Regions from separate parts of the Homo sapiens genome. Here region 1 is linked to region 2. Evidence: fine-mapped expression QTL. A gene starts in region 2. The other region holds a variant in brackets. All regions are shown on one strand. Distances are from middle to middle.

What was found. PIP is the estimated chance that this variant, and not a neighbour inherited with it, causes the effect. A credible set is the group of variants that fine-mapping cannot tell apart.
Region 1: its variant is the best candidate, but not a certain one, in a credible set for the expression of ACSL3 in whole blood (INTERVAL, PIP 0.74).

What each region holds. Positions count from the first base shown.
Region 1 is chr2:222,944,930-222,947,763 of GRCh38, forward strand. It overlaps the pseudogene LOC100419511. Among named protein-coding and RNA genes, the nearest start is that of ACSL3-AS1, 27 kb to the left of the region's middle. The variant C/G (reference allele first, on the strand shown) is at 1,136.
Region 2 is chr2:222,859,497-222,862,407 of GRCh38, forward strand. ACSL3 (acyl-CoA synthetase long chain family member 3) reads left to right here and starts at 1,540. Exons shown (of 17, transcript NM_004457.5): 1 at 1,540-1,762. RefSeq lists an enhancer at 1,255-1,549 and silencers at 1,266-1,595, 1,666-2,035.

The DNA of each region.
Region 1 (2,834 bases), 85 kb after region 2:
CAGCATTTTAAATTCCAAAATATTCATACAGCATAAAATCTTGAATAGAGGTGGTAAATTGAAATTTGGCATCAAAATTAATGGGGTAGAATCTACAATGTGGCAGAAATATCTAAACTTTGTGCCAACATTTAATCCAATAATTGTGGGAGGAAGAGTTGTATCATGCTGTGTTTCAGAAACTAACCTCCCTCACCCACCCCATCTTTGACTGCCAGTCAATATTTGTGGGTATATGTAACTTTATCATAGCATACTTTTGTCTCTGTGTGTAATCCTGTAACAAAACCAGTTAAAGCTTTCTTTACATAAACATTTGGCATCTTTGTGTGTTTTGCATTAACTTAGACAGTTGTGCCTAATTTCTCCTCATTAACTTTGCTCAGGTTATTCTTTTAAACATTGGTAACAATATTTCTACCACACCAAATATGCAAATGATTTTAGGATGAGGCTGGTCTATAGTGTCATGGAATGGTTTTTATGGCATAACGTGAAACCGGTTATATGCAGATCTATAGTCTGATTTATGTAATAACATTATCTTCAATCTGATAAAATCTGCCTCTGATTTCCTCCTAATTAGTTGGTCCACATGCAAGCATATAGTCTGCAAGGGCCTGTCCATTTCAGAATCGCCTCTGTAAACCAGATGCCTTAACATGGTGCATGCATGGCCCCCAGAGGAGGTGTTCAGTAACTGGTTTTGAGTGAATTTGAAGTGTTAACGAAATTATTATAACAGTGCATACGTATCCTCTAATGTTACATGCCTATTTCTGGTTTGGATTTTCCAAAATGCTTTTCAGCAAACCCTTCCCCATTAGTGTCTTTATTTAGTGATTTTGAATTGTGTTCCCTTTGGTGGGATTCATTCAAAAGCAACTTCCTGCATTTGGTGATTTTTTTCTTAGATTCATTCTCATTTGTTTCTGAAGAAAGGTTGTTCTGTGTGGGTTTTTTGTTCTATAAAAAAGTGACTTTTCTGCGTGGATTACTTTTATAGAAACAAGGTTTGTCTCCCATATGAATGTTTTGATGCTGAAAGTTTTTCCATGTTAGTGCACTTACAGTTTTTCTCTCTGGAATGTACCCTCTCATGTTGAGAGAGCGAAGAGCTATAGCTACAGGTTTT[C/G]CCACACCGTCTGCCTTTGTAGGTTTCTTCCCAGTGTGAGTTCTTTCGTGTTTAATCCAGGCGAGCTACAAGGGAAAAATTCTCCACATTGACCACATTTGTGGAGTTTCTCCAGTATTAATTCTTTACTGGTTACTAAACGACGCTTTTTGCTTAAGATTTCCCCTCCTTCTTTATATTCGTAGGTTTTTGGTTTTTTAACTTACATGAACTCTCACATGTTGAACAAAGGAGGAGCAGTCTTTAGAGATTTTAGATACTTTATGTTCACAGGATTTCTCACCTGTATGATTTTTCTCATGTTGATTAAGGCAGTAGTTCTCAAACTTTCTGGTTTCAGGACCTCTTTATGTTCTGAAATAAATTATTGAGAACTCCAGAATGTTTGTTTATGTGGCTTATATCTATCAGTATTTCTTTGTAAAGGGTTTGTATTTTATCATGAAACATGTAGAAGTAAATCATTCACTTTGATTTTTCTTCATGACCATAATCATATTAAGAATACAAAAGGTATAAGAGAGTGGCACAGGATGAGGGTTTATTAGGAGGGCTGTATGTATGCCTTCCCCACCCCTGACTCCCAAGAAAAAAGATTATAGCTATCAGAAGAACATAGCTTTGCAAGATTTGTTCTGTGATAAAGGCAAAATTCCACATTTTTCCTCAAAATAGAAATGAAAAACAACTATGTTGTCCAAATAATTTGATGCCCCAACTTTCAAAATGTTTATGTATAGAAGCCTATAGCTCCAACGCGCTGCCTAGCCCTGCCACTTTGTCAACCCCATGGCCATATTCTGGGCCCTGTTATCGCTCAGAAGGCCCTTGTCTGGAATCTGGGAAAAGGAGGATGTTGAAGACTTAAAAGTCCTAATGCCTTTAATGGGGGCCTGGAAGGATGGGGCTTCAGGCCTGGCGGGAAAGGAATGGTGTTGTGTGGGAAGGTGCTCACATATAAAACATCCAGCTCTAACAACCCAGCAATGTGCTGTCCTCAAAGCTCCCAACCCCGCTGTGAGTCACCCCATCTGAGGACCTCCATGAGTGGCCAGGGCACAGTCCCTTATTCTGCTAGATGCTCTGCCTGCCCTGTATAATACCTCTCTGCTCAGCCTTAGCACTAACGCCATCCTCACTCCAGTCCTCTCTTGGTTTGAATGTTTTGGATGTCTTGAGAGCATTGGGGCAAGAACTCCGAGAATTTTTTTTCTGTTTTCTTTTTTTTTTTTTTGAGACAGTGTCTCACTCTGTGGCCGAGACTGGAGTACAGTGGTACGATCTCAGCTCACTACAACCTCCATCTCCCGGTTCAAGTGATTCTCCTGCCTCAGCCTCCTGAGTAGCTGGGATTACAGGCACCTGCCACCACACCCAGCTAATGTTATATTTTTAGTAGAGACGGGATTTCACCATGTTAGCTAGGCTGTTCTCGAACTCCGGACCTCAGGTGATCCACCCGCCTTGGCCTCCCAAAGTGCTGGGATTACAGGCGTGAGCCACCGCTCCCGGCCTTAGAATTCTTTTAAACGTTTCCACAAATGTAAGAAAAGATGGCTTTTTGGTAGCCATGGTCAAAAATAGCCACCCAAATCTGTTTTTACCCTGTTCAGCACATCAGCAGTTCACCTCATGTAGGAAAGTGAGATGCACCAGAGGCTTAAAAAAGTTCCTATGGTTTGCCCACTAATTCCACATC
Region 2 (2,911 bases):
CACAATGTCTCTGAAGTATCTCTATGTATTTCTACTTAGCTTGTTAAACAGCAAACAAGATGAGAATTTAGAATTTTAATTCCCAGGACCATTTTCTTTTAAATATAGGTCCATATCCATAATATATATTCCATAATATAAAGATAATGAAGAAAGATATTGTTGGAATTCTTCTAGTCTGTTTTAGGCTTATGGATAGATAAAAAGGTGCAATATTAGTTTTCTTCTCTCGGAAAAAAACCAGTATTTTCCAGAGGATTTCATGGTTCTAGAAGTACTACTTCTAAAGCCTGCTTCTCTCTGCAGAGCTGCGAATGTCTTTTCAGATAAGAAATTCTGCATTCCATTTATCTTCAGGATGTATCCTTTGATAAGATTTCAACAGATTAATGAGCAACTGAACTGCCATATTTTGAAGTGGGAGAACAGTTTGCCTGAGTCAGGTATCCATCCCTTTAGGTTCTCGATTGGCCCTTGGCCCACGGTGAGTGAGCTCTCTTTGCTTGGTGCATCATCGCTCCACCTAGTTCAAGTTCTGGCGGCTTCCTGATTTTGATTCTCTTGGGAAATGAGGCCTGCTTTAGCCTGAGGCTGGCTCAGGAAGGCAACCTTTCACCTACTTAAGGAAAAGTTCACAGGCAAACTAAACAATATGTTGGGTTAAAAAAAGAGACCAATCCTACTAGTACTGGGTGAGTGAAAATCTTCTCTCTTACAGTACATGTAGTTCTACTACCTGCACTGGATGCTTTCTTTCTTATCCTTGTTTAGTGTCTAAAACGAGAAACAATGGCAAACTCCTTAAAATACAGAACCACTGTGGATTCCTAAGAACGTTCAAAAACAATAATTTGGAGTAAACTTTATTTTTTGAAAAGAAATAGCAAATTTGCATGGTGAGTGCATTTAGAGGAAAACGGGTTATATGCTAGGTCAAGTGAGGCCAAAACAAGAGAAATGATAATGGATAAGCTTTGAGTTTTTGAGGCTCTTCTTGCCCCAGGCAGTTCCAAAAGCCATTTTATTTGGCAGGATTTGACAGCAATTTCTGCAAGAACGGGATAACTAATCCAGTTAAAAACGAAAAAGAATATGCATACTATTTCATAATTTATATTGAAATTTATACATTACAGCAATAATTGTGCGACTGTAATTTTTTTTTTTTTTTTTTTGGTGGAGGGGTGTTTTTTCCTGGAGGGACGGAGCTCCTGCAGACCCTATTGGGCTAGCCGCTCCTCCCACGTCGCTGCCGCAGATCCCCGCTCCCCTCCCCCACCCGCGGTCCGTCCCTCCTGGTCGACCCCGTTCCCGCCCCCGCCCCGCGCAGACTGCAGCCAGGTCCGGTCCGCGGCGGCTCCGCGGAATGACCCGTAGTAACCTCGCCCCGCCCCGGGCCGCCAGCGCCGCGCTCCCCGGCCCGAATTCGATAGGCCCAGCCCCGCACGCGCCACCGCTCGCGGGCCAATGGGTGGCAGCCTCTCTGCATAGGCAACGAGTGCCGGCCGGGGGTGAGCGTCCCAGGCGGTTCCGCTCAACAGACGCTGCTGTGGCTGCGCCGGGCTGCGACACTGCAGTTGTCTACGCGGCCGGGGCCGGGACGAGGAGGCGTTGGACGGGGTCGCATACGTTCGTCCCCTCGCATTGCGGCCCCGACAGCTGCGCCAGGATCCCCGGGCGGCGGCGCGGGGCGTGAACGCTCTGGGGCTCAGCCAGGCCTGCGCGGGCCCGAGGCCGGAGGAACCCGGACTCCGGCGTAGCGGTGAGTGCGGCGCCGGTTGTGGGAGCGGCGGGAGCCGGTTGGCGGCGCGGCCTCCGCGTGCGGTTCGGCTGGGCCCGAGGGGCTCCCCAGCCTCGGGGCCTGGGACCCTGTCGTCGGCGCCGCACCTGACCGCTGGGTGTGCGCGCGGGCGGCCCGCGGCACCAGGAGCAGCGGCGAGCAGGGTGGGAGGCGGCCCGCTGGGGTCCGGGAAGCGGCTGACGTGGGGCCTCGGCCCTGAGCCCACGCGAGCCGGGAGCTGCAGCGCGAACGGCGTGGGGCGGCGCTGACCAGGCAGGGAGGATGCACTGCGTGCCTCCCGGCGCTGTGGGGCGGGGTGGGGAGGCCACCCCCTTGAATTAAGAGGGCTCTGCCGCGGCCCCAGCAGTGCGGTGTCCGTGGAAGGAGACTCAGCCCTGCGATTTCGGAAAACCCTTGTTTGGCGGGGCGGGAGGGGCTGTTGCTGCGTGGGGTGAGAAGAAACTAGGTGCGTGAGGTGGGTCGACCTTGGTGATTGGTTCTGGGCACTATCGTGGTGGTGGGACTGGGATTAAGACTGTCGTTTGGGGTTTGAGAGTTGCAGCTTTGCTTTTCCCCAAGTGCGTTTTAATCATATACTGTTGATAGGTTGGGTAACTCGGGGACTGCTTACTACCAGCAGTCCTGTGGGGTAGGTGTTATCAGGCTCGTTTCACAGATGAGGAGCCCGAGGCACAGGTTTTCAAATGGTTTTCGCAGGAAGTCTGATACTAGAAAGTGTGCTCTAAGCTGCTGTATAAAAGATCCCTCGAAAATGAAAAGGCTGGAGGAATGTCTTTAAAATTATATGGAAGCTAGAAAGGCAGTAGGCTTTGTGAACGAAATTATAGCTGAAAAGAATGACAAATAGCTGACATTTATTGAGCTTTTATTACATGCCACGCACTGTTTGGAGAGCTTTATGTACAGTGTCTTCACACTGTTAACAGTCCTCTGGGGTGGGGGTTATTCCCATTTTACAGCGGGAGAAACTGCAGATTGGACGACTTAGCTTGCCTCAGATCTCAGCTAGTAAGAAGCTGGGATTCAGACAGGCCTGTGTAAATCCAGAGCTCTGAAATCTAAGCACTATATTTTGCTGCCTCTCCTTGGTGGCTGGCTGAATAGTTTCCA